Homo sapiens: one gene and its partners. The protein of the gene in region 1 interacts with the protein of each later gene in a biochemical or structural test. Each region holds a gene or a part of one and is shown on either strand. Other genes may lie near its edges. The genes, in order: ARHGEF11, AMOTL1, NHERF1, MAP2K2, IQSEC2, RSRC2 and PALLD.

The links.
Region 2: the proteins of ARHGEF11 (region 1) and AMOTL1 interact in a test that uses a peptide from one of them, tested with the Homo sapiens proteins (one large-scale study listed by IntAct).
Region 3: the proteins of ARHGEF11 (region 1) and NHERF1 interact in a test that uses a peptide from one of them, tested with the Homo sapiens proteins (one large-scale study listed by IntAct).
Region 4: the proteins of ARHGEF11 (region 1) and MAP2K2 interact in a test that uses a peptide from one of them, tested with the Homo sapiens proteins (one large-scale study listed by IntAct).
Region 5: the proteins of ARHGEF11 (region 1) and IQSEC2 interact in a test that uses a peptide from one of them, tested with the Homo sapiens proteins (one large-scale study listed by IntAct).
Region 6: the proteins of ARHGEF11 (region 1) and RSRC2 interact in a test that uses a peptide from one of them, tested with the Homo sapiens proteins (one large-scale study listed by IntAct).
Region 7: the proteins of ARHGEF11 (region 1) and PALLD interact in a test that uses a peptide from one of them, tested with the Homo sapiens proteins (one large-scale study listed by IntAct).

What each region holds. Positions count from the first base shown.
Region 1 is NC_000001.11:156,948,243-156,951,742, forward strand, and holds part of ARHGEF11 (rho guanine nucleotide exchange factor 11), read right to left. Parts: intron 3,458-3,500; coding exon 3,331-3,457; intron 1,776-3,330; exon of another isoform or gene 384-1,775; coding exon of another isoform or gene 331-383; intron 278-330; coding exon of another isoform or gene 257-277; coding exon 77-256; intron 1-76. UniProt on the Homo sapiens protein: May play a role in the regulation of RhoA GTPase by guanine nucleotide-binding alpha-12 (GNA12) and alpha-13 (GNA13). Acts as guanine nucleotide exchange factor (GEF) for RhoA GTPase and may act as GTPase-activating protein (GAP) for GNA12 and GNA13.
Region 2 is NC_000011.10:94,865,466-94,869,973, reverse strand, and holds part of AMOTL1 (angiomotin-like protein 1), read right to left. Parts: intron 4,033-4,508; coding exon 3,806-4,032; intron 777-3,805; coding exon 501-776; intron 1-500. UniProt on the Homo sapiens protein: Inhibits the Wnt/beta-catenin signaling pathway, probably by recruiting CTNNB1 to recycling endosomes and hence preventing its translocation to the nucleus.
Region 3 is NC_000017.11:74,751,144-74,755,651, reverse strand, and holds part of NHERF1 (Na(+)/H(+) exchange regulatory cofactor NHE-RF1), read right to left. Parts: intron 1-4,508. UniProt on the Homo sapiens protein: Scaffold protein that connects plasma membrane proteins with members of the ezrin/moesin/radixin family and thereby helps to link them to the actin cytoskeleton and to regulate their surface expression. Necessary for recycling of internalized ADRB2.
Region 4 is NC_000019.10:4,099,707-4,104,214, forward strand, and holds part of MAP2K2 (dual specificity mitogen-activated protein kinase kinase 2), read right to left. Parts: intron 3,501-4,508; exon of another isoform or gene 3,111-3,500; intron 2,748-3,110; coding exon 2,670-2,747; intron 1,575-2,669; coding exon 1,523-1,574; intron 1,438-1,522; coding exon 1,313-1,437; intron 1-1,312. UniProt on the Homo sapiens protein: Catalyzes the concomitant phosphorylation of a threonine and a tyrosine residue in a Thr-Glu-Tyr sequence located in MAP kinases. Activates the ERK1 and ERK2 MAP kinases.
Region 5 is NC_000023.11:53,310,695-53,315,202, reverse strand, and holds part of IQSEC2 (IQ motif and SEC7 domain-containing protein 2), read left to right. Parts: intron 1-4,508. UniProt on the Homo sapiens protein: Is a guanine nucleotide exchange factor for the ARF GTP-binding proteins.
Region 6 is NC_000012.12:122,509,277-122,513,784, reverse strand, and holds part of RSRC2 (arginine/serine-rich coiled-coil protein 2), read left to right. Parts: exon of another isoform or gene 1-18; intron 19-2,596; coding exon 2,597-2,676; intron 2,677-4,508.
Region 7 is NC_000004.12:168,894,952-168,899,459, forward strand, and holds part of PALLD (palladin), read left to right. Parts: intron 1-641; exon of another isoform or gene 642-801; intron 802-1,597; coding exon 1,598-1,648; intron 1,649-3,541; coding exon 3,542-3,763; intron 3,764-4,508. UniProt on the Homo sapiens protein: Cytoskeletal protein required for organization of normal actin cytoskeleton. Roles in establishing cell morphology, motility, cell adhesion and cell-extracellular matrix interactions in a variety of cell types.

The DNA of each region.
Region 1 (3,500 bases):
TCAACTCTCAGCAACCCTCTATCCTTGCCGCCACCCCTGAGATGTCCATGGGTGCAGCCGTTGTAGCCCTGCCCACCTGGTGGAGAGGCTGGAGGTAGAGGACGAGGCTGACTGGTGCAGGCGAGTAGCCTCCGCAGCAGCATCCATGTCAACATCACTGCGAGAGCGGGGCACGTTCTCTGCCTTTCGAGACCGTTTCATCTCTTCCCGGCCCTTGAGGCTTTCAGAGCGGCCCAGGCGAATCTCTGAGCGTGAACTGGGGGGAAGGGACAAAAGACTTTGGGACTTGGGAAGTCAGTGGGCCATGCTTACATCCTGGCTAACTCTTACCTGTGGCTCCATCTCAAAGATGCCTCCGTGCCACAGGTTCTCCTCCTGAACATGGCCAAAGCAGCTGGATGGCAGTGGAAGCTTCTCAATGACAGACTATTTTTGCTGCTCTACAAACTCCTCCTCTCTCCCCAGCCTAGCCTGATGGATGGACAGTCATCTTCCTCTGGAGCTATTAGGAAGGGATCCTAACAGGAAGATGAAATCTGGGGCTAACAGACTCTGAGTTGTAGTGTGTCCAGAGGCCTGAGACACCATGCTTCTGTCAAGAAGGTGGTAGACATCATCGTCCCTCAACAGGGAACACAAGGTCCCAGCTCCCTGCCCCTAGTGGCCAGTTCACGTTGCCTCTGCTTTGGAACGGGTCAGCTCCCACCTTTAACTCTGCCTGAGGCGAACCTCTTTTAAGAGGTCTTAAGAGGAAAGTGGAGTCACTATATTCACAGCTCATTTTAGGATTTTCCACACTGCCTGTCAGAAAGTTCTATCTGCTGCTGGATTCTTAGCCTTCCAGTTGTGATGTGGATGAGTTCCATTCTTATCTTAACAATACTGTTCCTAAGATTCCATTTCCTCTCAAGAGCAGACAGGCTTGTGCTTAAAGGGGCCTTTTTACTGATAGGCAGGACCCGCTCCTTGGCCTGCCGTGCTTGGCTACTGAGTGTCTCTGGGGTTTGATGAGATGCTGATGACTGGGTGTTGCGGTGTCGAGTCCTGCAGTGCATCAGCCCAAGACAGCTGGCACCTCTGACCCCTAGCTGCCCCAGGATGGTCACCCCACCTCCATGCTGTGGCCCTGTTGGGCTGGTTTTCTGATATTATTAGTAATCTACATCCTGCTCTGCTTCTAGGACCACAGGAGGCCTGGAAATGTCTGCAGAGCTCTTAATAGCACAGCAGGTTGCTGCAATGAGGAGCTAAATGTCTCGGTCTCCATTCATTGTGCCCAAACTGCCAGATGATCCAAAATGGAGCTCATCTCCTAGGGTCCTGAGGGTTTTGTCTGCAGGGTTAGAAAACATACTGCCCACTGATCCCTTATTGAATTCACCCTCCAGAATTGTGTTAGAACAATCCCAACCCAGACTAACTCGGAACACTTTTCAGTGTCCTAATGGGTCACTGTACCACCACAACAAACACCCAGTGGAGTTACTGGGGCTGCAGAGCTAAGCACCTTCCTTCAAGCACCCAGAAGTAAGTAATGCTCCTCACCAAGAAGTGAGGCATATCATCTGTCTTTGCCCCCAAATTCCTAGGGTATTGCCTTCTAGAACTGGGGCATCTTATACCTGTTGAGTATCTACAACAATCTCTGACCCACCATATTGCTAATACTATTTCTTCTGAGATTGCCAATGAGTTGATAATCATCAAACCCAAAGGCTTCTGCTTAGAGTAGCTTTAGGATCCTAGCAAGTGTCTTAGGGCAAATTTACCTAGCAATGCCAAGAATGCAACTTTGTAAATGGTCTCAAATATTTTCTCAAAATGTTGATGTCTTATAATCTTAAAATATTTGATATATCTACGACATCATGTGCTTCCACAGGAATCACATAATTTGCGTATTTAACTTACCCATTAATGTTAGAACTCAACCTTCCCCCAGTACAAATCTAACCTTTGTCTCCTGTAAATCTGTCAATTCTCATGGCAGCAAAATCTTTTAACACGTGTTAAGCTGAAAAAAGGCTTCATATAAACAGAAAGGAGTAACCTGCATTCAAGCAGGAAAGGTTGGCTTATGGTTTGATAATTAGTTATTTCAAAGGCAAAATAGGCCAGGTGCAGTGGCTCATGCCTATAATCCTAGCACTTTGGGAGGCTGAGGCAGGAAGATTGCTGTGGTTGGGAGTTCGAGACCAAGCTGGGCAACATAGTGAGACTGTCTCAAAAAAATAAAAATAAAAATCAATTAGCCAGGTGCAGTGGTGCATGCCTGTATCCCTAGTTACTCAGGAGGCTGAGGTGGGAGGATCCCTTGAACCCAGGAGTTTGAGGCTGCAGTGAGCTATGATTGCACCACTGCAATCCAGCCTGGGTGACAGAGAAAGATCCTGTCTCTTTAAAAAAGAAAAAAAAATCCCCAAAACAAACAAACAAACAAACGAAGGCAAAATGGCTTGAATATCCACGCTGCTGCATACTGACTTGCTTTCATGCCTGCCTATACTCCAGCTCAGTGGCTCTGAGGCTTGACTGTACACAAGCATTATTTCCCCCCACACAAGACCATATTACTCTACCTGTTTAAGTCACCTTTAAGGGTGGTGTTGGTTTTTAAGTGTTGGCTATAGAATTTTAGACATGACTTGACTGCTGTCATGCCACAATCAAGAGCAAGTAAGTCCAAGAACAAGTTTTCATACCAGATGGGGACTCTAGTTAGAACCTGACCAAAGAAGAATATGAGAGATGCCAGTCTCAATTCCCCTTTTTCTTCTTGAAAAGGGAAAAACAGTCCATTTGTAATCAATCCACTTTGCCTCTCTTTGCTGAGGTGGACATCTGATGCCTATAGTTACATCATTTGTCTTTAAAGTACCCAGCAGAACCTCATCTCTGGCTCTCTTCTTCACATACAGACAGGAAACCACTTTCTTTTGCCTGCCTGGGTCTTTTTTCCCCAGGACTCCCTCTTGCCCCCACTATAGTCTTCCTTATCCTTGTCACTTAGGGTTTCCTGATTAGCTGCTTTTTATCACCTAGCTCGATCTTGGATGAAGGCTACTGAGTAGTCAGGTGATAAATCCAAAGGGAATTTGAAAAGTGTGTAGTTCTTGGGCTGGAAGTCGGGGATCTGCTTGCTCTTCCACTGGCCTGTTCACTGGCACACAATGTGTCTCCTGAAGATACTGGGGGTGGGGAGGAAGTTCTGTAAAGGGAGCCTTAGAAGCTAGTGGAGAGGGGTCAAGTAGCTGGAATTAAACCCTAGCATCAGCCCTGCCCATGACCCACTCTTCGAGCAGCTGGCGAGTCCCATCCAGCCAGTGCTACCTGTCACTCTCCAGCAGGTCCTCAGGAAAGCTTCCGGTCGAGAGTCGTTGTGTCCCAGGTTCTGGGGCATCATACTGCTGGTTGTTCTCAAAGTGCTGAATGATGTTCCTCACATTGCCTGGTTTGACTAGAAGCAAAAAGAAAATGAAGGACACTAGGCTTGCTGTTCA
Region 2 (4,508 bases), on another chromosome or scaffold:
TAAACAGCTCGTTAGTCCTGGCCCAAGTGCTGTGCCACACGTTAACCGACTCTGCAGGTCAATCTACCTTCTCCTTCCATCACAATGTCCTCCACTGAGGCCAGAATCCCTGGTAAGTTAGAGCCCTGAAGGCAACAGTGAACTTGTGCCTTTGATGTACCTGGTGCCTAATTCTGGCTCCCAAACATACCAGAGGGCATTCAGCCCCTTAGAGGGTCTGTTGTCACTCCATCCGGGGAAAGGTTAGTTAAAAAGTATGCATTGCCAGGGTAGTCTCAAGCCGTGCACTCATTTCAAATAGTAATAAACTAGATGTGTCTATATGCATATTTATTCCCGTAATAAGAAAGGGCACACATATCCTAAGTGCATTAGAATAGCATCCCCATAGAGTAAGAGCTGATGGGTGCCCCTGCTTCCTCTCTAGCTCAACAAAAGATTCTCTTAGGCCAGACAGTTCCACAGTTTTCAGGGGCATCAAGGTGGGGTAGCCCACATACCCAGTTTCTCTGCGGTCCCTTTGGCCGCTGGGTGTTTCAGGACGGGGCTGTGAGCAGGGGTCGTGCTCAGCCGGCCGCGGCTGGGAAGGGAGGCCATGCTGGGCCAGAAGAGCTCGGCACTCTTGTCAGTCTGTGTGCTGCTGTCCTTGCTGCCTGTCTTGGCGTGGGCACTGCTGGCTGCCGTAGTGGAGGCTATGGAGGACAGTGCTGAGGTGGGTGGGGGTGGCAGCAGTGGGGCAGAGGCATGCTCATGGTGCTCCTTCCCCAGCAGCAATCCTGAGGGCAGAGAACAGATTTTTCAACATTCTTTTTTTCCTTTTTTTTTTTTTAAATCTAGTCTTGCAGATCTGTTCCTTGTTGATTGATGATTGCTTCATTCATTCATTGATTCATTCCCCAAGCATTTAATAAACACTTATTACAAGGCTGATAAAATAACAAACACTGAGAGAATAAAAAATGGAAGACCTAGTCCCCTTCCTAAAAAATTGTAGGTTTTTTTTGTGTGTTTTTTTTGTTTTTTTTTTTTGGAGTGGAGAAGTAGTTGTCAAGTAAACTGATTATAACTTAATATATAAACTGTAGGATACAAATAAATTATTCACAGGGTGGTATGGACGAACAGAGAAGTGCCTAATTGCCAGCAGGAGGGGTAGGGAGGTTCCCACAAGGCTTTCCAGAGACCATGCTTGCTGTTACCAACGTGGCCCAGAAGGGCTGGCCTGAAGCGTGGCAGTGTGCTTAAGAAAAACTACAAGGCTTCCCCGGTCCTAGACATGTTCCCATTGGCTTGCTGCTCTTCTGAATAGTTCACAATTCCACCCCACTCCTTGTAATGGATGATGGTCCCCCACAGGCTTGGATTCAAAGATAAACATGCTACCTGCACATTTCTGCGGTGGAACTGTAGCCTCCCAGAAGCAGAAAGCCAGCCAGCCTCCTAGGAAAGGCCACTTAGCCCTCTCCTTACCCCCTTCCTCAAGAGTAGTGAGGCTGGGGTGGGGAAGAGGGGATGCTGGCTATGGAAATGGGAGGCGTGGTGTGCAGAGGTGTCCATTTTCCTCAGAGCCTTCCTGGAAAGCTGGGTGGGAGGATAACTTTTTATTTTTAAATACAGCACACACGCGGGAAAGTGCCAGCACCCTAGAATGCTAGCCTATAGAAAAGGCGGTAAGCGCAATCAAGTATTTGTTCTCTTATCTGGTTAGATAGCCAGCAATTCATAAAGTATCCTCGCCAGAGCTGTTTTAAGGTGCCCATTTAGAACTCAGGGCAGTTCAGTTTGTCGAGAGCAGTGCTTTTCAAAATGCAATGTGCATAACAATGACTTGGCTATACCGTTAAAAGGAAGACCTGATCCAGCAGGCAGGGCCTGGGATTCTGTATTTCTAAGAAGCTCCCAGATGGTGCTGGTGCCACTGGTCCACAGACCACGCTGAGCAGCAAAGGCCTTCACCTGCGCTTCCCACATCATCTCACTTCATACTGCATGTCATTCCTGCGAGACAGGCCTTATCCTGTCTTACGGAGAAGGAAATGGAAGCTCACAAAAACTAACATCTCACAGCTAAGAAGCAGCAGAAATGGGACTCAAACCCAACTGTGCCTGACTTGGAGTCCAACCTATGTTCTTTCCACTTCATCGCCCAGCCTGTGGAAACTCCAGAGTCTGCAGGATGTCCTCGTAGGGAGTGACAGGCTGAATAAGTCACTAGCCAGCCATAGCTCCTGGGATACCCTGGGCAATTGGGAAGGTATATGCTGTCACCTCCACCTCCTTCCAGAGCCTATCAGGCAAGCAATGGTGACAACATGTGGGGAACTGTGCAGTCACCCATGAACCTGCCTCAGCCCCTTGGAGAGTCCCTGTGTTTGTGACACGTGGACACCAATGACAACAATGAGGAGGAATATCAGTGCAGGGAACACAGCAGCTCTTCCTTCAAACAAGTCCTCCGGCTCCCAGGCCTGGTTTAGACATGCCAGGTCCTGGGGCATACGGGCACAGACACCAGAGATGCCTGCCTGGCTGCACGTCACAAACAGGGGACTCCCAGGGAGGTTGCTACCAGAGCTGAGCAAATTTTCAAACTCCTTGACCAGGCCTGGCTCAGCACTGCCTCCCAGCTCTCTAGCTGGGGTGGGAGCTAAATGTCCTTGGGACAGTCTTTGATGATCTCAGCTGCTGTCCACACACGTCTTCTTTGAAGTGCATTTCCTTTGGGGGCAGGGGCTGCTGAAGCCACCAGTGGAGGGACTTCAAACACAGATTCTGGTTGGGAGCCTTTGATCCCCCCAACTCTGTCGGGTTCATATGGAAGCTCTTATCCCCTCTGGCCCAGAGCAGCCAGTCTCCTTTGGGGTCTTATGCTGAGGACCACTGGCTCTCAGCTGCACAGAGAAACAAAAACACGATCTGATGTGGGGAAATGCATCAAAGAAGGGCCAGACCCCTGGAGAGGCCAGAGTGCAGGGGAAGGATGTGGAGGACCTGTGTCTGAGCACGCTGCCTGCTTCCCCTCCAGCTTGGCTAGCCCAGCCAGCCAACAAGCCTGCCTGCCCCCAAGAAACCTACTCCTGGCTAAGACCACACTTAGGGAATTCTGCCCATGCAACAACAATACAGCAAAAACTTACCACCCCTACCTTATGCGAGAGAGCACTTCTTCCAATGTGCTCTCCCCATTATCCCATTCTTCCCTCCCACGCCCCATGGGGTAAAGCAGGCAGACACTGTCCTCCCCCCATTATCCCATTCTTCCCTCCCACGCCCCATGGGGTAAAGCAGGCAGACACTCTCCTCCCACCATTATCCCATTCTTCCCTCCCACGCCCCATGGGGTAAAGCAGGCAGACACTCTCCTCCCCCCATTATCCCATTATTCCCTCCCACTCCCCATGGGGTAAAGCAGGCAGACACTGTCCTCCCTTTCCAGACGTGGAAGCAGAGGTGGAGCCGTCATACAACTGGTCTAGAGCAGAGCCAAGTTCAGAGGCGTGATGTCTCTAGGCTTTTCTATGAGAGCCTTTTGTGTTATAAGGGTCACCTCAACTTACAACAATAATAGATAATTCTGATCTGAGTCAACCCATGGCTAAGAGCTACTCCAGTGGTGCAGTCTTTAGAATTTACACAATGCTTCCACATATCTATAACTGAAGTATGACTGATTTCCCTCCCCACTTCACAGATGAGTAAACTGAGACCAGGAACTATTCAGGGACATTTCCGTGTCCCATGAGTGGCAGAGAAGCTGTCTGGTCTTGCTTTTCCAATCATGGTCTGACAGAGGTGTGGGGCTCACCTATGCTCCCCTTCCAGGTCTTCTCTTCCTTCTTTTCCTCAGCCAGCTGGCTGCTGGTAAGAGAGGTCTGGCGAGAGTGTGTCCCAGTAGCTGCTGCTATGGATGGAACGGAGCGGGCAGGACGTAGGCTGGAGGAGTCTGTCTTCCCGGCATCTTTACGAGATCGCTGCTGCAGGACCTTAATCATAGCATCTTTCTCTATGATTTTGGCATGGAGATTTTTAATACTGTAAAACAAAACAAAACAGTCTCCATAAAAAGCCACTTGGCTAGAAAAACTTGAAACATTTATCTCAGGCTGTCCCAAAGACTTTAATTGTAATTTAGGGATACAGGATGAAGCACAGTACGAGTCTTCAAATGTTGATAATCTCCAAATTGTTAAGACAGGTCTTTTGTCATATGTCAAAAGAGTACACCTTCTCTGGCACCTTGGGAGACTGGGACTTCAGCGAGGTACAGTTAGAATGACCGTGGCCACATTCCTGGACCGAAGTCGGCTGGGGACCATATTTAGAGGGTCTAGCATTGGCGGTGGGGGCCGGGGGTAGGTAGGGGATAGGGAAGCATAAAAACTCTAAAGCCTCAAACAGGGTGAGCTTTCAGCTAAAGTCAATTTCTCTATTTTCTAAGAAAAAAGAACCAAGATGAACAGGTTCTCTGGTAGAAGATGATTTTTCTGGAAGAATGCTGAGTTATTTTC
Region 3 (4,508 bases), on another chromosome or scaffold:
CACAGGGAGAGGCTGCAGCCTGTCTCGGAGAATTCAGAGCTCTCAGCACCCAGCAGTGAGTGGGACTTGAACCTGGCCAGCATTCTCTGTGTGTTCCCACACCACCCCGAGGTGACCTGGACCTCAGGGAATCTGTAACTCTTGTCCTTTTCTAGGGCCTAGGGACCTAAACATTGCCTAGGAGTCTGGGGACATGGTGAGTTGTCCTACCATGAGGGGAAGGCTTCGGTCAACAGTGAAGACCACCCTTGAGGGGGGCTCTCTGTGCAGGTTCTGGGGAGTGAGGGCGGGGGTAGATACTTGGTTACCAGATTCCAGATTGACCTATCACATCACGTGAGAAGGGATGGGGACAGGAGCCTGCCACTTATGGGCTGAGGCACTGCAAGGATGCCCTGCTAGGGACAGGAGCACCTGGAAGCCCTGGATCCTTACAGGAAGCCAGTTCAAGCAGCCTGAATTTATACCACTGTGATGGTCCAGCTGTGGCTCAGAATATGATGGGCAGAAACACCTGGCAGAGTCAGGCTTCAAGCACAGCCTACTCATGTGGCCAAATGGCTGTGCAGGCACTAGAGTCAGAGGGTTGGGTTCCAAGACACACCCCTGCGCTGTGTGGGAGGAGTCGCTAGCTCAGAGTCCTGGGACCCGCCATGGCCACCTTAACTGATCAAGCCTCAGCCTCCATAGGCAGAGAATGGGGCCAATATCTGCCTCACTGGTGGTCATGTGGATTAAATGAGACAGGCAAGGTTAGTACTTAGCACAGTGCTAGACACAAATAGTAGCTATCATGTATTGAACACTTACTGTCAACCTACAAAATAGAGAAAACAATAGCTAATTTGTCTGGGGGACAATGAAATGCATATTGGCTGGGTGTGGTGGCTCATGCCTATAATCCCAGCACTTTGGGAGACCGAGGCAGGTGGATTACCTGAGGTCAGGAGTTTGAAACCAGCCTGGCCAATGTGGTGAAACCCCATCTCTACTAAAAATACAAAAATTAGCAGGGTGTTGTGACAGGTGCCACCCAGCCTGGCCACCGTGGTGAAACTCCGTCTCTACTAAAAATACAAAAATTAGCAGGGTGTGGTGGCGGGTGTTTGTAATCCTAGCTACATGGAAGGCTGAGGCAGGACAATTGCTTGAACTTGAGAGACGGAGGTTGCAGTGAGCCGAGATCACACCACTGCACTCCAGCCTGGGCAACAGAGCAAGACTGTCTCAGGAAAAAAAAAAAAAAAAAAAAGAAAGAAAGAAAGAAAGAAAGAAAGAAATGCATGTCAACATCTTTATGTCATAGGTAGAGTGCCTAAAGGCACTGTACAAACCTGTTTCCTTCCAGGTAGGGCCACTCTATCTTAGAGCAACGAAAACAGAGGAACATTTGTTATTGGGGTCTAGAGCTCTGGTTTCTCCCTGTAAAGAGTCCTGCAGCACCAACAAGACCTCGGCTGAGCTTCTTCTTTCTTTTTTTTTTATTTTGGAGATGAGTCTCACTCTGCTGCTCGGGCTGGAGTGCAGTGGCGCGATCTCGGCTCACTGAAACCTCCACCTCCCAGGTTCAAGCCATTCTCCTGCCTCAGACTCCCGAGTAGCTGGGATTACAGGCACCTGCCACCACGCCTCGCTAATTTTTGTATTTTTAGTAGAGATGGGTTTTTACCATGTTGGCCAGGCTGGTCTTGAACTCCTGACCTCAACTCCTGACCTCAACTGATCCACCCGCCTCGGCCTCCCAAAGTGCTGGGATTACAGGCGTGAGCCACCGTGCCTGGCCTGAGTTTCTTATTAATTTCCCACCCCACTTTCCCAGGGACCATTGAGATGGGACATCTGGGAAAGGGGAGAAGGACCCCATCTAGACATATGGAGTTCCTTGAGAAGGAAGCCCCCATTCACCCCCCTCCCCCTGTTTTTTTGGTAGAGACGAGGTCTCACTATGTTGCCCAGGCTGGTCTCAAACTCCTGGGCTTAAGCGATCCTCCCGCCTCAGCCTCCCGAAGTGATGGGATTACAGGCACAAGTCACTGCGCCCGGCCAGGAAGCCCCCATCTATCTCCAAGAGAATCATCTCCAGAATTACTGAGTTAACAGGAGCTTGAAGGTAAGAACCAGGGGCTACACTGTTTTGCCAGCAAAGAAAGAGATCCCAACACACAAACAATCACATACCCTGTCCATTTCAAATCCAAACACCCAGCAGCTCAAGCTCTGTTCTGCCCTACCAGAGCTCCAACTTGGTTGGTGTAAAATGGCCCGCCCGCCCTGGGAAAGAGGTTGATGGCCCTCCAGCTAACTGTGCCCCACCACCCACCTTGCTCCCTGGGGTGCCTGCACTCTGACTCTGGGATCAGGGTCAGGGCTGGCAGGAAACACCCCAAACTAGCACTTTCATTTACAAACCTGTCATGCCACCAAATCTTCCCAATAACCCTGCAGGCAGTGCCTTTCACAGAGGTGGAGGCTGAGGGTTGCAGGGAAAAATGAACTCCCAGGATCCCAGAACCAGCACACGGCAGAGCTGGGATTCAAACACTGATCTGGCTGACCCCAAAGCCTGGACTTTTGGCTTTCTAGTTTTCAAATAGAAGCTGCTAGCAGGCAAGAAAGAAGAGTGGGTAGGTTCTATCTGGAATTCCAATCTCTGGGCGGGGCGGGATGAGCTGAATGAGGACAAAGGTCCCTGACTGTTGTTATATATTCATTCATTAATTCAAAAACTGTTTTTGAGAGCCTCCCTACCATGTGCCAAGGACAGCGCTGGGGATAGAAACACAAATAGGCCACAGTTGATGCCCTTGGGCTTACCACGTAGTGGAGAAAAAGGTCACAAACAGATGATTAAAATATTGTGTGTTTAGAGCGATAAAAGATGTAAGGACAAAGAGGAGGCGGAGGCCGAGGCTGGCAGATCACCTCAGCCCAGGAGTTCAAGACCAGCCTGGGCAACACGGTGAAACTCCATCTCTACAAAGAATTTAAAAATTAGCTGGGAATAGTGGTGCATGCCTGTAGTCCCAGCTACTAGGGAGAATGAGGTGGGAGGATCGATTGAGCCCTGGAGGTCGAGGCTGCAGCGAGGCGAGGTTGCGACACCACTCCAGCCTGGGTGGAATCTGTCTCAAAAAAAACAAAAACAAAAACAAAAACAAAAAAAGTGAAGGAAAGGAAATGCTAACTCTGCCTACTGGATTAAGGACAGGCTCCCTGGGAGGGGACAGAAGTGTCAGGGTGTGAAGGCTTAGAGGCTAGAGGGGAATTCGGACCCTGGGTGTGGTTTTGGGGGTAGGGAGGCAGTGGTGAGAACAGGCTGCCAGATGGAGAAGGGCCATGGAACAGCATATAACTCTTAAAAAAAAAAAAGAAAAAATTTAATAGAGACAGGGTCTTGTCATGTTGCCTAGGCTGGTCTCAAACTCCTGGGCTCAGGCGATCCTCCCACTTTGGCCTCCCAAAGTGCTGGGATTACAGGTGTGAGCCACCACACCTGGCCACAACGTATCATTCTTAACCCACAGTGACCATCGATCAGGCACTGACTGTGTGCCAGGCTTGGCCACAGTGGCATTTGCCCAACTAGGCAGGCTGACCCAGCGCTAGCTGCCCCATGATAGGTGTGCAATGATCACTATGAAATATGTATTCATTCCAATACCAACTGCAAAGGCTGGCTGAGCCTGGACTCAGTGCCAGGCACTGAGCTACGTGCTTTACACACAGCCTCATGCAATTCCGAGGTAGCTGCCATAACCCCCAACTTACACAAGAGGAAATGGAGGCTTACAGAGGTGAGGTAACTTGGCTTCGCACAGCCTGGCTAGTACAGCTGAGCTGGCTCGGCTCTGCCCGGCCGGCACTCTGAACCCAGACTCAAGGGTTTAGGCCTCATCCTGTGACTGGTGGTGAATGGGGGGAGGAGGGCTTTAAGCAGGGGAACAGCAGGGCGGGTCTTGCTGCTCCTCTCTCCCCACGGGGCAGGCGGGGAAGGCCATCCACAAAGCAAAGCCGGTGGGCAGAGCTGGAGAGCCACTTCCACCTCCTTAGGCCTAGACTCCCCAGCGGGGATGGCCAGTGTTACAGGCACCCCTCAGCCTCTGCCCTGAGTGGTTCTGGACACAGCTGGTCTTCCCAGCCAGAGGCCACCCAGCCAACCACTCTCTGCGCCACACTTTTCCACTGATATCATCACTTAGTAAGTGGAGGGCTAATGAAGACAAGGGAACAGCCCCACCTTGCACACAAATTCAGACTAAAACGAATTGGCAAACCTCCATTTGATGCTTTATGTAGGAAACGGGTGTGTTTTAGAAAAACGAACTCTTACAATGTCTGTTAACATTTTTTCTAATAACCACATGGGTGTCTGTATGCTCAACACACAGGATTGAGAGGAGAGGATTTTCTGCTAGAAGGACTCAATGGTGTTGACTAGGAGTCAGTTTAGAGGAGCTGGGATTCAAACGCCAGGCATGAAGGAGTGCAGTTCAGCATTTAGTAAGGGG
Region 4 (4,508 bases), on another chromosome or scaffold:
CCTCCTCCTCCACAGCTAACATCTCAGAGGCTGCTCCAAGGCTCAATTTGGCAGGTTGCTGAATCCCCAGTCGTTTCCTGAAAGACCCCAGATTCCAATTCCTTGGTCCAGAAATTAACTAAGGGCCGGGTGCAGTGGCCCATGCCTGTAATCCCAGCACTTTGGGAGGTTGAGGTGGAAGCCCAGGAGTTAAGACTAGGCTAGCCAATATGGCGAGACCCCATCTCTACTAAAAACATTTTTTTAAAAGTTAGCCAAGGCTGCCGGGCACGGTGGCTCACGCCTGTAATCCCAGCACTTTGGGAGGCCGAGGCGGGCGGATCACAAGGTCAGATTGAGACCATCCTGGCTGACATGGTGAAACCCTGTCTCTACTAAAAACACAAAAAATTAGCCGGGCGTGGTGGCGAGCGCCTGTAGTCCCAGCTACTCGGGAGGCTGAGGCAGGAGAATGGTGTGAATCCGGGAGGCGGAGCTTGCAGTGAGCGGAGATGGCGCCACTGCACTCCAGCCTGGGTGAGAGTGTGAGACTGTGTCTCAAAAAACAACAACAACAACAAAAACAAAAACCAAATTACCCAGCTGTGGTGGCACATGCCTGTAGCCCCAGCTGCTTGGAAGGCTGAGGCAGGAGAATTGCTCCCGGGTGGGAGGCGGAGGTTGCAATGAGCCAAGATTGTGCCATTGCACTCCAGCCTGGGTGACAGAGCAAGACTCTGTCTCAAAAAAAAAAAAAAAAAAAAAAAAAAGAAAGAAACCTGGTAGGCACTGCTAGAGACAAAAACCTAAGAGAGAATTCCAACAGGAAGGGGAGATCTGGCCGGGCGTGGTGGCTCAGGCTCACTGCTAGTGGAATCCCAGCACTTTGGGAGGCTGAGGAAAGAAGGTCACTTGAGTCCAGGAGTTCATGAGCAGCCTGGGCAATACAGCGAGACCCCGTGTCTACAAAAGATTAGTAAATTAACAAATAAAAAATAAAGAGCAAGGGGAATCCGAAAAGCAGGCTCCCAGGAGGCACCAGCTTTAGACGTGCCTTGTGGCAAGTGGGGAGAGCTGATGAAGGGGAGGGTGCAGCTGGGGTGGGACTGTCCCGGGGGTGCTAACAGCCATGTAGGAGTGTGTGCCCACGAAATAGTTGGGAAAGCCTCGTGGGAGGCGGGGAGAGCTGCGCAGGAGAACTGGGAGGGACAGCTGCGCAGGAGACATGGGGGTGAGAGCTGAGGGGGAGAGCTGGCTGGCAGAGCTGGGTGGGGAGAGCTTGGGGGAGAGCAGCAGGGAGGAGAGCTGGAGGGGAGAGCCAGCGGGGACTCACAGCCATGTAGGAGCGCGTGCCCACGAAGGAGTTGGCCATGGAGTCGATGAGCTGGCCGCTCACCCCGAAGTCACACAGCTTGATCTCCCCTCTAGAGTTCACGAGGATGTTGGAGGGCTTCACATCTGGAGGCGGCAGGCTGCGGGTGAGGGGCGCCCAACAGTTGCCTGCCGGCCCCCGGGGCTCTGGGGAGGGCGGGCTGGGCCTTACCTCGGTGCATGATCTGGTGCTTCTCTCGGAGGTACGCCAAGCCCCGGAGAACCTGCAGGGGAGCGCGGAGGGAGTCACGGGACAAGGCCACCAGGGCTTAGCTCCTGACCGAGCCCGGGGGTCAGAGCTGAGCAGTCAGAGCTGGAGCGAGGGAGCTGCGGCAGGAACCATTTCAGGCTGTGAGGAGCTCGCTGGGGTGGAGCAAGCGAGGCCAGAGACGAGACAGTGCTGACAGCCCTGTGCTGGCGTGTGCAAGTCAACCCCGGTTCCCATGGCCGCAGTGCCGCCGATGCCACTACTGCCTTTGATTCAGAGCACACGGCTTAGCCCCAGGGAAGCTGAGATGGTGGCCCATGGCCCGGGAGTAGGCTGGGCTGCCGAGTTTGCCCACATCAGCCTGAAAGGCAGCATCTGGGGTCCCAGGGACTGTGCTAAGGGCCCCCAGATGGGACGGGCTAAGGGTGCCTGGGAAGGACGATGTTTCCCCCAGGCCCGCCCTGGAAGCAGCATCCCGAGAAGTGAAGCAAGCAGCACAGGCAGTGTGACGGCAGCTTTCAACTCGGAAACGCGTGTCTGGCAGCATGCGTCCTGTGTCTTAATCCAACACTGGTATGGGCAGGCGGGACTCGGCCCCTGCTATGGACAAGGTGCAAGCTCCAAGAAGCAACACGCACGGTCTGCTGAAACCACACGGCTCTACGGAGCAGCTGTGCTGGAGACCGGGCAGCAGAGACGCCCTTGGCCCCGGTGACATTTCTAACAGCAATGGTGAGTGTGTCTGGAGGTCCTGGCGTCCCACATCCCACCCCAGAGTCTCCCTTTCAACAAGCTCCTGTCCCCTGCAACGTGCCAGCTGCCAACATCCCCCTGCCACGAGGGGCAGAGGGGACCAGTGTGGCAAACAGAGGATACTAAGAGTGAAGAGGGACCTATAACGTCTTCACTTGGCAGATGGTGACCTCAGGCCCCAAAAGGGACGTCACTTGTTCAAGCTCCACAGCAGGTGGGCACAGCCTTGGCCACTCTCTTTCTGCAGGGGCCACCCTAACCCCCACCACACTGTGAGTGGCTCCCGGAACCCTGGCCGTGTGGAAGAGGTCCGTGCAGAGTGCGGTGGGGGCGCGATGTGGGTCTGCGGTGGACTCACCGCGATGCTGACTTTCCCCAGGATCTCCTCGGGAATCCTCTTGGCCTCTTTCAGCACCTGGTCCAGGGAGCCGCCGTCCTAGAGGGCACACAAGGAGTGAGTGCAGGCTCTGCGCAGGTGGCCGGGAAGCCACGGATGCGTCCCCCCACTCCCGGCGAGGGGGTGGTCTGCCTCCTGACGGGAAGCAGGGGCCGGAGCCCAACTCCACCCACGGGCCAAGGGCAGGGCGTCTTCTGACAGTTCTGCCTTTGGGTCTGAACACCCACCCACAAGGTGGGGAAGGAACAGGGCCCAGGGTTCCCCCGCCTCCCGTCCCATCCTCGAATCAGTTGCGTGACTCGGCCCTCCTGAGGTCGCCACGGCAGAGGCTCTGCTCCGGGCCAGCCCAAGCCGCGGCCGGGGGCTCAGGCAGCTGTGGGGCCCGCACTCCCTGCAGCCTACGTGGTGGGCTTGTCTGTGCGCCACGGGAGGCGGCCAGGCTGGAGACCAGCGTCTTGGGCCTGCGTCCTCTTCCCAGCACACGAAGGGAAGGGGAGGGTGAGGGCGCGGAGGAGACGCGGGTGCTGCCCCGCGTGGGAGGAGGCGGCGGGTCGCTGTGTGCCCGTCCAGACCCCCAGGGGGCTCCCTCGCCAAGCCCTGCGGCTCCACTGCTGGGCGTCTGCCCTGCGCCTGTCCCTGCCACCTAGGGCAGAAAGGCCAGGCCGAGTAGGACCAGGGGCCAGGGGGTGCATGGACTGCAGGAGGGATCCCAGTGACGCCAGCCCAGGTGACGGTAACCTCGGCCCCTCCCCACAGCCTGTGGTCTCCTCGCCACTGTGCCGGGCATCCTGCGGAGGGCCTGGAAACGAGTCATCATGGGTAGGCTGGTCCCCGGGTGTGGCCCCACATCCATGTCATAAATGATGAAACAGAAATTCCATGTCTTGCCCAAGGCTGCCTGGCAACAAACCTGGGGACCAAAACCCCCAAATGCCAAAACCCCAGGCACTGGGAGCCACCCAAGGTGCCTCTTCAGAGGCAGAGGCTCCGGACACACCTGCCAGGCCACCCCCAGGACAGCAGGGGTGACAGGCCAAGTTCCCACTGCCACCGTCTGGCGTGCGTCTCTTCTGTGCTCAGCAGAGAGGAAAGTGGAACTGAGGCTAGAGAGGGCGGGCTGGAGGAGCCTGGAGAGGCTGGCTGGGGAGCCTGGATTTCCCCACCATGCTGCTCCAGGACTCCTGCAAAAGCCCAGCCTTCCCTGGGATGGCTTTCATTCACATGGGTGGGAGGAGCCGGGGGAGAAATCCTGGGACTCAGGGGTGCCCGGGTTGCCGCTCTCTGGCCACTTCTGCCCAGCTAGGCTTGGAGAGAAAGGCCGAAGGCAGTTCTAGAAAACCCAACACGCTTTGAGACCTCTAAAGCATACACGTGACTCCATCCACCAGCTCCAGGCTGAAGACGCAGACACACAGGGTGAGAGGGCAGGTATGGCCAGGGCTCAGACAGCCCAGGAGGAGGTGCCAGGACGGGAGCTCCAGTGAGCCAGGGCCAGGTGGAAGCTGCTTCTATTCTCAGTTTTTATCAATCTACCTTAAAAGAATTACTTAAAATGAGGCCGGACATGGGCTGGGAGCGGTGACTCACGCCTGTAATGCCAGGACTTTGGGAGGCTGAGGCAGGCGGATCACTTGAGGTCAGGAGTTTGAGACCAGCCTGGCCAATATGGTAAAACCCCATCTCCACTAAAAATAAAAAAAATTAGCTGGGCGTGGTGGTGGATGCCTGTAATCTCAGCTACTCGGGAGGCTGAGGCAGGAAGATCACTTGAACCTGGGAGGCAGAGGTTGCTGTGAGTCG
Region 5 (4,508 bases), on another chromosome or scaffold:
GTCAGGCTGGTCTCGAACTCCTGACCTCAGGTGATCCGCCCACCTCTGCCTCCCAAAGTGCTGGGATTACAGGCATGAGCCACTGCGCCCAGCCTATTATCTTCATTTTTTCAGACAAGGAAACAAGGATCAGAGAGGTACAGTGACCTGCCCGAGGTTATTCAGGCAGATGGAGCCCAGAACTGTCTGGCTTCCAAACCTATGGTACACCGCTGCCTCCCGCAGGTGGGCTTTAAAGACATCAGAGCTACTCCAGGTATGTGGCTCTAGCTTCCTCCAACAGAGCTCCCAGGACCCCTGCTCTAGGCAGGCTCCCTCTCACCATCACCCCCTGAATTTTGGCCATGGTCTCCTAGTAGATTGCCCCTCCTGCTCTCTCTCCATCAAGCCTCTGATGAGGTGCAGCCAGACCATGTTCTGCAGTCCAGCTCCAGTAGTTTCACTCTCTCTTTGGCCTGAGAACTCCTCCGCCTGCCCTGCATGGTCTTCTTAGGATCTGTCCCCAGTTTGCCTTTTTCCTCTCGTCTTTGTACAGACTATGCTCCAGCCAGGCTGACCCGTGTGCCCCCCTGGTTAGCCCACTCAGGCCTTCTGCTAGCCTCTAGGTCTTTGCTCATGTTGTTCCCTTCTCTTGGGCTGCTGTACCCAGTTCCCAGGCTGGACTCAGCTGTTACCTCTCCTATGTCTGTTTGCTGGTGTCTCTGATGTTTGGTCTATCCTTGACCCTCTCAATGAGCACATTGCCCCTTTTTATTCCTTCATGGTTGTTTACATCTCATGTCCCCTCTGTTAGACTGAGACCCCCTTCAGATTTACATTTAACTGACATATACTGAGTGCATTTTGTGTGTCAGGTTCTGTGTTAGGTGCTGTGGGCATGAGTGAAGGAGCTAAAAGCTTGGAAACACATAGCACAGCACATAGTAGCTGCTTAATAAATACTGAGTAGATAAATGAATGTCTGATTGAGTCCTGCTGAACTAATAGCCAAAGGTACCTAATTTTTTCTTCCTTCCAGGACTCCTGTAGTAAGAAATGACAACTTCAGAATTCTCTTGGGGTAGGCACAGTAGCTCCCAGCACTTTGGGAGGTCAAGGCGGGAGGATCACTTGTGCCAGGGAGGTTGAGGTTACAGTGAACTATGATTGTGCCACTGCACTCCAGCCTGGGCAACAAATTGAGATCCCATCCCTAAGGAAAAATAAATTCTTTTGGCTTTTCTGTGGCTTTTTTCTCATGCTCCCTGGAGCCATTTTGGCCTTTGCTGTCTCTTCTCACGCTCACCAGCCTTCCGATTCATAGAATGTCAAGGTAGCAGACTTGGACGAGACTTTGGAGACATTTAGACCAATCTGCTGATCATTATCTCTCCCTGCCATGTCAGGCTGTGGTCCTGACCCTCGATGCCAAGTCTTCTGTTCTGAAAGGAGCAAAGAGGCCTGCACAGGACCTGTGTGCAGTTCACTCAGCCCAGTGGGAAGTTGCTTATTTATCCATCAAACCTTTCTTGAGCTCAGACCCTGAGCTGGACATGGTATCTCAGGGTTGACATAAGACTTGGCCCCTCTGCCTCACTCACTGCAGTGTTCCCTGGCAGGATCATAAACATTGGTCATGGGGAAGAATGCTTAGTAAGTGACTTACTTCCTCTTTTGGGGAAGCTCGTTTAGGGCAACATAATTTGCCAGTTACTATAACTTCCTCATGGTATTTGGTTTCTCTCCAAGCCTGCCTGTTGGAAGCATTTACACGGGGAAGCCCATTCCCCAGTGCTTAGTAGCTGAAGCTCTCTGGGACCTTAGCATTCAGAGAAAGTGTGGTGCCATGGAAGGACTTTGTGTAACTCTAGGCAAATCACTTCACTTTCAGAGCCTCAGTTTTCTCAAGTAGTAAATAGGAATAAAACTGTATTTTCTGATGCATGAGATTCATGTTGCCAGCCCCCTACCTCCCTCAAAAAAATTGTATCAGAAAATTTCCTGGCTGCCTGGCATACCGTACATCAAGGTCCTGATCAGGCTGGAAAGCTGAGAATGGAAAATAATACATGAGACTGCCCTGCCCCCTAGAGGCGGAATGTGGCAAACACACAACAATGCAAAGACCGATGCATCGCATCCCTTTCAAAACAAAGATGACAAGCCAGAGCTACACGGCTGATCAGGATTATTCCTCCAACATTTTAGATGTAAATGTATCACTATCATCACCTAATAGGTACCATTTCACTAATGTTTCACTAGTGCATTTCGTTGGAGCGATGTGATTTTTATACCTTTTTAAAGGAGTGATAGGACTGCATATCCAGGCCCTGTGATTTCCTGCTGGATTCCAGGATACAGCATACTGCATTCACCTGAATAAAACCAATATTTTCCTTCATATAACCACTTTAGAATTATTGTCATTATATCTGTGATGAAAAGTACCTAACTTGGCTCTTCCCCCACATTTTCTTATAAATCTGAGAGGCATCTCTCACAACTGTATATCTGATATGCCAGCCAATTCATAAACAACCCATCTCATTGTGATGGTTGTGAAAATTAAATAAGATGACGTAGGTGAAGCGCTGAGCACACAGTATGTGTTTACTCAGCGATAGCCATTATTATTAATAATAACTCTGTAAAGCTCTGTGCTGTGGGAGGACAGGAGGAGAAACCATGTGGCAGCTCACCACATTTCAGAGAGAGAGGTCAGTCCAGTGAACATTGCATGCCAGGATGTGCCATGCCTTGTGCCATCACAGGCAGAGAATTCTATGATTAGTATATAGTTCCTGGCTTCAAGGTGCTCATAATTGGGTGGAGAAGGTGGTGGTGGAAATAGACGATTGCAGTGTGCTATCCAGTGTGTCATGCCAGAGGGGAGCACAGGGGGCCACAGGTGCTCAAAGGAGAGACATCACCCTGGACTGTCAGGGAAGGCTTACTGGAGGAGGTGATACCTGAGCTGAGGCTTGGAGGATGAGTTTGAGTTAGCTAGGTGAAGAAGGACAGCATGTGGGTTGGTGGGAATTGGGGGCAAAAGGGAGGTTAAGGCAGAGGGGCCAGCATGAGCAAACACACAGAGGTATGGGCCCAGCAGGATATGTGTATGGGGAGGTTTTTTGTTTGTTTGTTTTGTTTTTTTATGAGTTCAGTACAAACTAGAGCACAAACAGAGAGACTCGCAGGGGAGTCTGGAGGGTTGGCCGGCTCACATCTTGAGGACACTTCACTAGCAGCGTCAGGAGCTTTCTGCTGTTTTGTTTTTGTGTTGTTTTTGTTTTTATTTTTTTGAGACGGAGTTTTGCTCTTTCGCCCAGGCTGGAGTGAAGTGGCGTGATCTCAGCTCACTGCAGCCTCTTCCCCGCCCCAGGTTCAAGCAATTCTCCTGCCTCAGCCTCCCGAGTAGCTGGGATTACAGGCGTGTGCCACTATGCCTGGCTAATTTTTGTATTTTTAGTAGAGACAGGGTTTTGCCATATTGGCCAGGCTGGTCTCAAACTCCTGACCTCAGGTGAGCCACCTGCCCTGGCCTCCCAAAGTACTAGGATTACAGGCATGAGCCACCATGCCTGGCCAAGTAGCATTTTAAACTGGGGGAGAGGTGCTTATTGTGGTGTGGGAGAACATGTCAAGAGCCACGTTTTGGAGAGATCCCCCTAGAGGGCAGTTTGGAAGATAGATTGGAGGGTATCCAGGGAGGAGGCTGGTACAGCAGTCTAGATGAGAGATGATCAGGCCTGTGCTTGGGCAGTGGGAGTAGAGATAACCTATGTGGGGAGAAAGATGATGATGGAGGGGAGCGCAGCCTGCTCTGGAAGCTCAGAGGAGTGGCAGCGTTCATGACCAGTAGGGTTTTAATAATACCAGCATAGAAATCAAGAAATCACAAGTTGGAAGGACTCTGACAAATCATCCAACTGAAGCTATTCATTTTACAGATGAAAAGACTGAGGCCCAGAGAGAGAAAGGACTTGTATAAGGCCAGTCAGGGTGTGAGCAGAAAAGAGAACGCTGATTAGAAGAGTCACCCTAGTATGAATGCCAGCATTCAGAGCATCTTTTCTTTTCTTTTCTTTTTTTTTTTTTTGAGATGGAGTCTCTCGTTCTGTCACCCAGGCTGGAGTGCAATGGCGCGATCTCGGCTCACTGCAACCTCCGCCTCCTGGGTTCAAGGGATTCTCCTGCCTCAGCCTCCCGAGTAGCTGGGATTACAGGCATGCACCACCACACCCAGCTAATTTTGTATTTTTAGTAGAGACAGGGTTTCTCCATGTTGGTCAGGCTAGTCTCGAACTCCCGACCTCAGGTGATCCGCCCACCTCGGCCTCCCAAAATGTTGGGATTACAGGTGTGAGCCACTGCGCCCAGTGCATCTTTTCTTAAATGTGCTGTTCTCTTTCTCCCCCTAGCTCAGGCCCAGCCTTCTTTCTGCTGTTTTTTGTCTTACGTGGCTTCATTTACTGTAACTGAGGCAGCTCAGAGGCAGTTTCTGGCCTGACAGCCAGGTCTCTCAT
Region 6 (4,508 bases), on another chromosome or scaffold:
CTGAACAGCAGCAAAAGTGTGAGCTCACCCCTTCTTTCCATTCACCTTAGTGAATGGTATTAATTCCAAATCTTCAATGGCCATTTTAATGCAACCAGTTGTAGTCACACGTATCTTCTTTCTGAAACTAGTATGGAAATAATTTACTATAAAATTGGATTTAGTATATGCTAGATTGTAATTTCATTAACTCTGACAAATATTTTTTAAGCTCTTATTTACTTGAATGCCATAAGTCTATTCTGTTTGTGTTTTTGGATTTTTTTAAAAGTGAAGCCGTTAATAGCATCCAAAATGTCATTGATATATAGATTACTTGGTGATCTTTCAGATAAAGTTTTAAATGTAGTTCTTTAATTTCAGAATATGAGATTATTTACTACCTTGAAATCTGGAGAATTTTTTTCTTAAGAAACTACCATGTATAGACCTTTTATATTGGTTTCTTTTTTGGCTTAAAGGTCAGGATTTAAAACTGTTTAGGAAATACATTTCAGATCTGTGACCTACTTTTTTTATTTTTTATTTTTATTTTATTTTATTTATTTATTTATTTATTTATTTATTTATTTATTTATTTATTTATTTTTGAGACGGAGTCTTGCTCTGTTGCCCAGGCTGGAGTGCAGGAGCATGATCTTGGCTCACTGCAACCTCTGCCTTCTGGGTTCAGGCAATTCTCGTGCCTCAGCCTCCCAAGAAGCTGGGATTACTGATGCGCATCACCACACCCAGCTAATTTTTGTTTTCTTTTTAATAGAGACGGGTTTTGCCATGTTGGCCAAGCTGGTCTCGAACTGCTGGCCTCAAGCAGTCTTCCCACCTTGGCCTCCCAAAGTGCTAGGATTACAGGCATGAGCCACCTTGCCAAGCCTGCGACCTACATTTTATTGTTACTGCTAATTTACAAACTTTTATTCTCAAGGACAAAGTCAAGTCTATGTTATGCCTTCCATGCATATGTGCTTCATAAAAGGGAATAAAATTATAGCTTGTTATATTTCTTTTATGTAAATTTCAACAATTTTTTTTTTTCCTTTTCCTCTTTTTTTTTTTTTGAGATGAAGTCTTGTTGCCTAGGCTGGAGTGCAGTGGTGTGATCTCAGCTTACTGCAACCCCTGCCTCCTGGGTTCAAGCGATTCTCCTGCCTCAGCACCCCAAGTAGCTGAGATTACAGGCGCCCACCACCACGCCCTGCTAATTTTTTGTATTTTTAGTAGATGCGGGATTTCACCATGTTAATAACCAAGCTGGACTCTAACTCCTGACCTCAGGTGATCCACCCACCTCAGCCTCCCATAGTGTTGGAATTACAGGCGAGAGGCGTGGCGCCGGGCCGACTTAACAATTCTTAAAGCAAATCCAATTTACTACCCCTGCATTGTATTACCCATAGTGCCCCAAAACAAAAACAAGTTTTGTCAGTCCTGTCCCCTTTATACCACATTACAGAGGGCGTTAGTGGCATTTGGCTTGATTGATAAATCAGGGAATCCTTAGGAAGAAAAGAGTTCCTCTTTCAGGAATTCATTGTGAAGATAATGTTACTTGTTATTTGCTATATAGAAAGGGTAAACTTAACATATAGCTTGTTTAGTGTGCATACTCATTAGTGAATTTAATGTATGCACACTACTCATTCAACAGAGTGAGTAGAGAGAACAAGCATTCATTTTTGGGCTGGGCATGGTGGCTCACGCCTGTAATGCCAGCACTTCGGGAGGCCAAGGCGGGCGGATCAGAAGGTCAGGAGTTTGAGACCAGGCTGACCAACATTGGTGAAACCCCATCTCTACTAAAAATACAAACATTAGCTGGGCATGGTGGTGTGTACCTGTAATCCCGGCTACACAGGAGGCTGAGGCAGGAGAATCGCTTGAACCCAGGAGGCGGAGGTTGCAGTGAGCCAAGGTCGTGCCATTGCACTCCAGCCTGGGCAACAGAGTGAGACTGTCTCAAAAAAAAATTCATTTTTGTTTTGGGATGAATTTGTGTTTCATGTTACTAGTTCCTTTGTAAATGATAAATTTGTTCAACTGCTAGAAGTAATTTCCTAATTGAGAAAAGTTTTCCTCCCATTTTATTAGATTACAGAGAATGGCAAGGTTTGCTTGACCTTTTAGTTTTGGCTTTTTGATTTTTATTAAATTGAAGACTTTACTAAGGTCTGTACAATATAAAAAATTATCCGAATGTCTTGATCGGCTGGCTTTTTCTCCCTCAAGAAACATTTAGATAATTCTATAAATTTATTTACTACTTAACCATGCTCTAAAATTTACTCAGCTTTCAATATGTTACTTGCAAGACGTAATTTTTTTCACTTGTTAATTGGAACTGCATATAAAAACTATGCCCATTTCTGACTAGTCAATTCAAAAATGTTTAAAACCACTGTTGTGGTATTCTTCAAATGTAGCTTATATCATCTTAAGAATGATTGCTTTTTCTTCACATACGGCTATCGGTGGAGGGATGCTAAAAATTTAAAATTTTATGGAAGTTGGCTTGTCTCTGTACATGCACATATAGAGAGATATATACATAATGGTTTTATATTGTGTTATTTTAAATTCATTGAAATTAATTTTGCAGGTTGGAAAGGGCAAAGAAATTACAAGAACAGCGAGAAAAGGAAATGGTTGAAAAACAAAAACAACAAGAAATAGCTGCAGGTAATTTTTTTCATTCTTTTTTAGTCATCTCGATTTGAGCTCTTTCAAGCTTTTTTGTTTTTCACAGGGATTTGCTCTGTCATTCTGACTGGAGTGCAGTGGCTCCAGCATAGCGCATGGTAGCCTCAAACTCCCAGGCTCAAGTGATCCTCCCACCTCAGCCTACCGAGTAGCTGGGACTGCAGGTCCCACATCACCATGCATGGCTAATTTTTTTCTTATTTTTTGTAGAGAGGACCTTTCACTATGTTGCCAAGACTATTCTTGATCTCGGGCTTAAGCAGTCCTCCTGCCCCAGCCTCCCAAAGTGCTGGGATTGCAGGCATGAGCCACTGCACCCAGCCTAAGTTTGACATGCTTTTTGTAGAAAAATTGAAAAATATAGAAAATAATAGGAAGAAAATCACCTATGATTCCTACTTCCCATCAGTACACTGTAAACGTGTATTTTAGTGTTCTCACTTAAGTGTTTTGTAGCTTGTTTCTGATGTGGTCCATGTGGATAATTTTTGTTGATAAATTAGTAATGAGTATGTTTGTTTATGTAACACTAGTCATCATGACAGATCTTGTTGTTGTTGTTACGGAGTCTCGCTCCATCGCCCAGGCTGGAGTGCAGTGGCGTGATCTCAGCTTACTGCAACCTCTGCCTCTTGGATTTAAGCGATTCTCCGCCTCAGCCTCCCCTGTAGCTGGGACTACAGGTGTGCACCACCACATCTAGCTAATTTTTGTATTTTTAGTAGAGACGGGGTTTCACCGTGTTGAACCAGGATGGTGTCGATCTCTTGACCTGGTGATCGTCCTTCTTGGCCTCCCGAAGTGCTGGGATTACAGGCATGAGCCACCACGCCCGGCCCCAGATGTCTTTTACGATTTTGGAAATGTAGTTTATGCAAGAAAGTGAACTGATCTGAAATATGTATTTCTCTTTCAAGAAATCAAGTTTTTATGCGTAACAAACATTGCAGATTTCAAAAATTATCAGGCCTGGCTCAGTGACTCACTTCTGTAATCCCAGCACTTTGGGAGGCCAAGGCAGGTGGGTCACCTGAGGTCAGTAGTTCAAGACCAGCCTGGCCAACATGGCAAAACCCCATCTCTGCTAAAAATACAAAAATTAGCCAGGCGTGGTTGTGTGTGCCTATAGTCCCAGCTACTCAGGAGGCTTGAACTCGGGAGGTAGAGGTTGCAGTGAGCCAACATCACGCCATTGCACTCTAGCCTGGGTGACAGAGTGAGACCCTGTCTCACGAAAAAGAAAAAAACAAAAACAAAAAACAAAAAATTATCACGAAGAGCTTACTGTTGATTTGGTATGAAATTTAATCTGGAAGATGGTTTTTTGTTGTTTTTTACATTTTTGGTAAACAGTGGCACTTATTTGAAACTCTAAAAGTTTACAAATAGCCATTTTATTTTTACTACATCATTACTCTCTTTGGTAACTCTGGTTCCCATAATGTTGGTAATTTAAGTACTTTTTAAGGTTATATTCTGGACTGACAAAAATAGGTAATCAGAGGTGTCTTTTTTTACAGAGGACTGCTCAATCACAGTGGAAATACCAGGGCTTTATTGAACTTGGACTTAGCATAATACCTGCATACTGTTGTTGTTTTTGGGTTTTTTTTTGTTTTTGTTTTTGTTTTTTTTTTTGAGACGGAGGCTCATACTGTCGCCTGTGCTGGAGTACAGTGGCACAATCCTGACTCACAACAACCTCCACCTCTCGGGTTCAAGTGATTCTCCTGCCTCAGCCTCCTGAGTACCTGGGCTTATAGGCGCCTGCCACCACGCCTGGCTAATTTTTTTGTAGTTTTTATTTGAGA
Region 7 (4,508 bases), on another chromosome or scaffold:
TAAGTTTTATGCAAAATAATTTTGTGTGGAGAAACACATTTTCGCCGACATTGTCTGAAATAACTAGTGAATATTTCCCATTAGAGTTGGACCTTGAACAACACGGGAGTTAGGGGGACCAACCCCAAGCACAGTTAAAAACCCACATATGGCCGGGCACAGTGGCTCATGCCTGTAATTGTAGCACTTTGGGAGGCTGAGGTGGGTGGATCACGAGGTCAGGAGATCGAGACCATCGTGGCCAACATGGTGAAACCCCGTCTCTACTAAAAATACAAAAATTAGCCAGGTGTGGTGACGCACACCTGTAGTCCCAGCTACTCGGGAAGCTGAGGCAGGAGAATTGCTTGAACCCGGGAGGTGGAGGTTGCAGTGAGCTGAGGTTGTACCACTGCACTCCAGCCTGGCAGCAGAGTGAGACTTCGTCTCCAAAACAAAACAAAACTAAAAACACATATACGACTTTTGACTCTTCAAAAACTTAACTAACAGCCTACTGTTGACCAGAAGCCTTACTGATAACAAAGAGTTGATTAACACGTATTCTGTATGTTATATGTATTATAGACTGTAGTCTTAAAGTAAGCTAGAGAAAAGAAAATGTTACAAAGAACATCTTAAGGAATAGAAGATACATTTACAATTCATTAAGTGGAAGTGGGTCATCATAAAGGTCTTCATCCTCATTGTCTTAAATTAGAGTGGTCTGAAGAGAAGAAGACAAGGGGTTGGTCTTGCTTATCTCAGGGGTTGCAGAAGCGGAAGAAAATCCATATATAAGTGGACCCATGCAGTTCAAACCTGTGTTGTTCAAAGATCAACTGTTTAGTCTTAATATCTAGTCAAAATAAAATAGAAAATATTATCTCTTTATCTTCTTTCACATATATACAGATGTTCTTCAACTTAGTATGGGGTTATGTCCTGATAAACTCATTATAAGTTGAAAATATTGTAAGTTGAAAGTGCATTTAAGGCGGGGCGCAGTGGCTTACGCCTGTGATCCCAGCACTTTGGGAGGCCAAGACCGGGTGGATTACCTGAGGTCAGGAGTTCAAGACCAGCCTGACCAACATGGTGAAACCCCGTCTCTACTGAAAATACAAAAATTAGCCGGGTGTGGTGGCGTGCGCCTGTAGTCCCAGCTACGCGGGAGGCTGAGACATGAGAATCGCTTGAACCCAGGAGACAGAGGTTACAGTGAGCCAAGATCGTGCCACTGCACTCCAGCCAGGTGACAGAGCGAGACTCCATCTCAAAAAAAAAAAAAAAAGTGCATTTAATACACCTAACCTACTGAACATCTTAGGTTAGCCTAGTCTATCTTAAATGTGCTCACAACACTTACATTAGCTTACAGTTGGGCAAAATCATCTAACACAAAGCCTATTTAAAATAAAGTATTGAATATCTCATGTGATTTATGGAGTCCTGTACCAAAAGTGAGAAGCAGAATGGTTGTGTGAGTACTCACAGCACCGTTACTACCAAACGCATATTGCTAGCACAAAAGTTTCACTTAAGGAAAATTAGAAATCTTGCTGCATTCTTATTATTTCTATTATTAGTCTTCACATCTTTTTTTCTACCATTACAGGACATTGGTTCTCCTCATGCTTCTGTAGGGAGTCCTCTGGATGGTCAAAAGGTTAAGCTTTTCACCTTTCTTCTCCTTCCAGTCTTTCTCTGTGTCTGTTTTCTTCTGTTCTTCCTGTTTTACGTGTGTTTCTATCTTTTCTGCCATATATTAATTATAAATGCTATGACCAGTGTCTGTTTCATTTAATATCAGATACACAAAATTACTGCAACATGAGTTTTCTTGTCATGTATTTACCAGCTTGAATTTATTTATTTATTTTTACTTTATGTATTTATTTATTTATTTATTTATTTTGAGATGGAGTTTCGCTCTTGTTGCCCAGGCTGGAGTGCAATGGTGTGATCTTGGCTCACTGCAACCTCTGTCTCCTGGGTTCAAGCGATTCTCCTGCCTCAGCCTCCCAAGTAGCTGGGATTACAAGTGCATGCCAACATGCCTGGCTAATTTTGTATTTTTAGCAGAGATGGGGTTTCACCATGTTGGTCAGGCTGGTCTCGAACTTCTGACCTCAGGTGATCCACCCGCCTTGGCTTCCCAAAGCGCTGGGAATACGGCATGAGCCACAGTGCCTGGCCTCTGACTTGAATTTAATTCTGTCATTAGTGGATACTCTGAACATTAAATCAAGAAAAATTTTTCATTTGTTATATATACCTTTCTATGGGGAACAAAAGTGCTAATTCTTCAAGGGATTAATTTGATAGTAATTAGATGAAGCAAAACAACTTGTGGTATAACTCTTGCAGTTTTATTCATACTGTTGTATTTCTTCCCTCAAACCAACAAACTTGTTTTTTAAACACTGAGTAACTTCTTTAAGAGAAAACATAGTTAAAGTTATCTTTCATTTAATATTAAATAGGGAATATTTACATAGACTCCCTTGTCTTCATTGCACTTTTTTGTTTTGGAGACAGGGTCTCACTCTTTTGCCCAGGCTTGAGTGCAGTGGCACAATCACGGCCCACTGCAGCCTCGACTTCCCAGGCTCAAGTGATCCTCCCACCTCAGCCTCCCAAGTAGCTGGGACAACAGGCATGTACCACCATGCCCAGCTACTGTTCTTTTTAAATTTTTTGTAGAGATGGGGTCTCACTTTGTTGCCCAAGCTGGTCTCAAACTCCTGGCCAGAAGCAATCCTCCCACCTCGGCCTTCCAAAGTGTTGGGAATTACAGGCATGAGCCACTGTACCTGGCCTTTAATGCACTTTGTAGGCAAGGAAATTGTAGGATCCACCGTAATCACCACAGGAATGTTGATGGGTTGTTTTTTTTTTTTAAAGCAAAATTTTGGCTAGACTGTCAGTCCTATTTTTTCTTCTAAAGATGGTGGGTTCCTAACAGCTGCAGAGCTGAGGAGGCGGCCCTTGCAAGGCAGGGATTGTTAGAGGTGGGGGAAAAAAAACAAACATTTTTTTTTTTCTATTATTCTTTTACTATTTTTTCTATTACCATTTTTTCTAGTACCATTTTTTCTATTATTCTTTTACTATAATTGTATATAATATGGCAGCTGCTTGCCACATGTACTATGTGGAGAGATGTACCACCCTGCATCAGCTTTTACCCTACAGAAGGAAATCAGCGTTCCATTATATTTTATTGTTATCAACAGTTTAGGAATACATAGCTTTGCTTTTGCCTTTTTCTTTCCTTCCCCTTGTTTCCCCTCGCCTCAGAGAAAAGAAGGAAAAAAAAATTCATCTTTCCTACCCCCCTCTTTTTGGATGATAGGACTTGAAGACAATCTGAAATACCACATAAACTCACTTCCAGATGTTTTTTGTTTCATATGCAATTGAATTGGGCTCAGACTGTGTTTTTAAGCTGTATGGTAAAAATATCACTGTCTTCTAGGGCCTTATTGGGGGGCAGGGAGAGACGTGACACTTTGTCAGAAGGGATTGAGTCTGCTAACTTAAACTTTCCTTGATTCAGGAATACAAAGTCTCCAGCTGTGAACAGAGACTCATCAGTGAAATAGAGTACAGGCTAGAAAGGTCTCCTGTGGATGAATCAGGTGATGAAGTTCAGTATGGAGATGTGCCTGTGGAAAATGGAATGGCACCATTCTTTGAGATGAAGCTGAAACATTACAAGATCTTTGAGGGAATGCCAGTAACTTTCACATGTAGAGTGGCTGGAAATCCAAAGCCAAAGGTGAGCTGGGAGATGGAGGCTTTTTAAGAGTCATTCTCTGAGGAAAGGTTTAGCTTCCAAAACATAGCATGCCAGTAGGAGAAAGAGATACAAATGATCTTTCTCAATACCCACGATATAAAGGGTTTTAAATATTCTTAAGTTCTGGGCCATCTTCAGGAGGCATTAGAAACCAAAAAAGGTGGTGGGGGGAGTGGAGTTTGGGTTTGAAGAATAGAGAATAACTAACAGGGAGCTCTTCACACACCTATATCATTTATTCCTCGTTGTTATTCCCAAATCACAAATAACTAAACTGAGTTCTGTGAAGTGAGTTTCCAAGGTCAGAGAGCTGGTGAGTGGCCAGGCCTGCATATGAACCCAGTGCTCTGTACCATACAGACAAGTAATGCTCACCACTGGTTGTAAAAACTTCCAATCTTTAATCAAAAAACCAAGGCTGCTTATATTAATATTTACAGAGGGAGGTGGGGTGAAGAATATTGTTTAGAACGGATAATGACAAATTCTGATACCATGCAGGACTAGGATGACCTGGATGGGAGCTCTCTCCATACAAACATATGGAAATGCTGGATAAGGAGCTGCCCTATCTTTAAAGGAAGGACTAGAATAACTGTTTACTAGCCCAGCAAGGCAGTAAACAGGAGTACACTTTTCCCTAGAGCTTGAGTGAAAAGAATAAAAAAAAGGGAAAAAATTAAAACCCCTAAACTACACTATCACATGATAGGGAGCCAAAAGC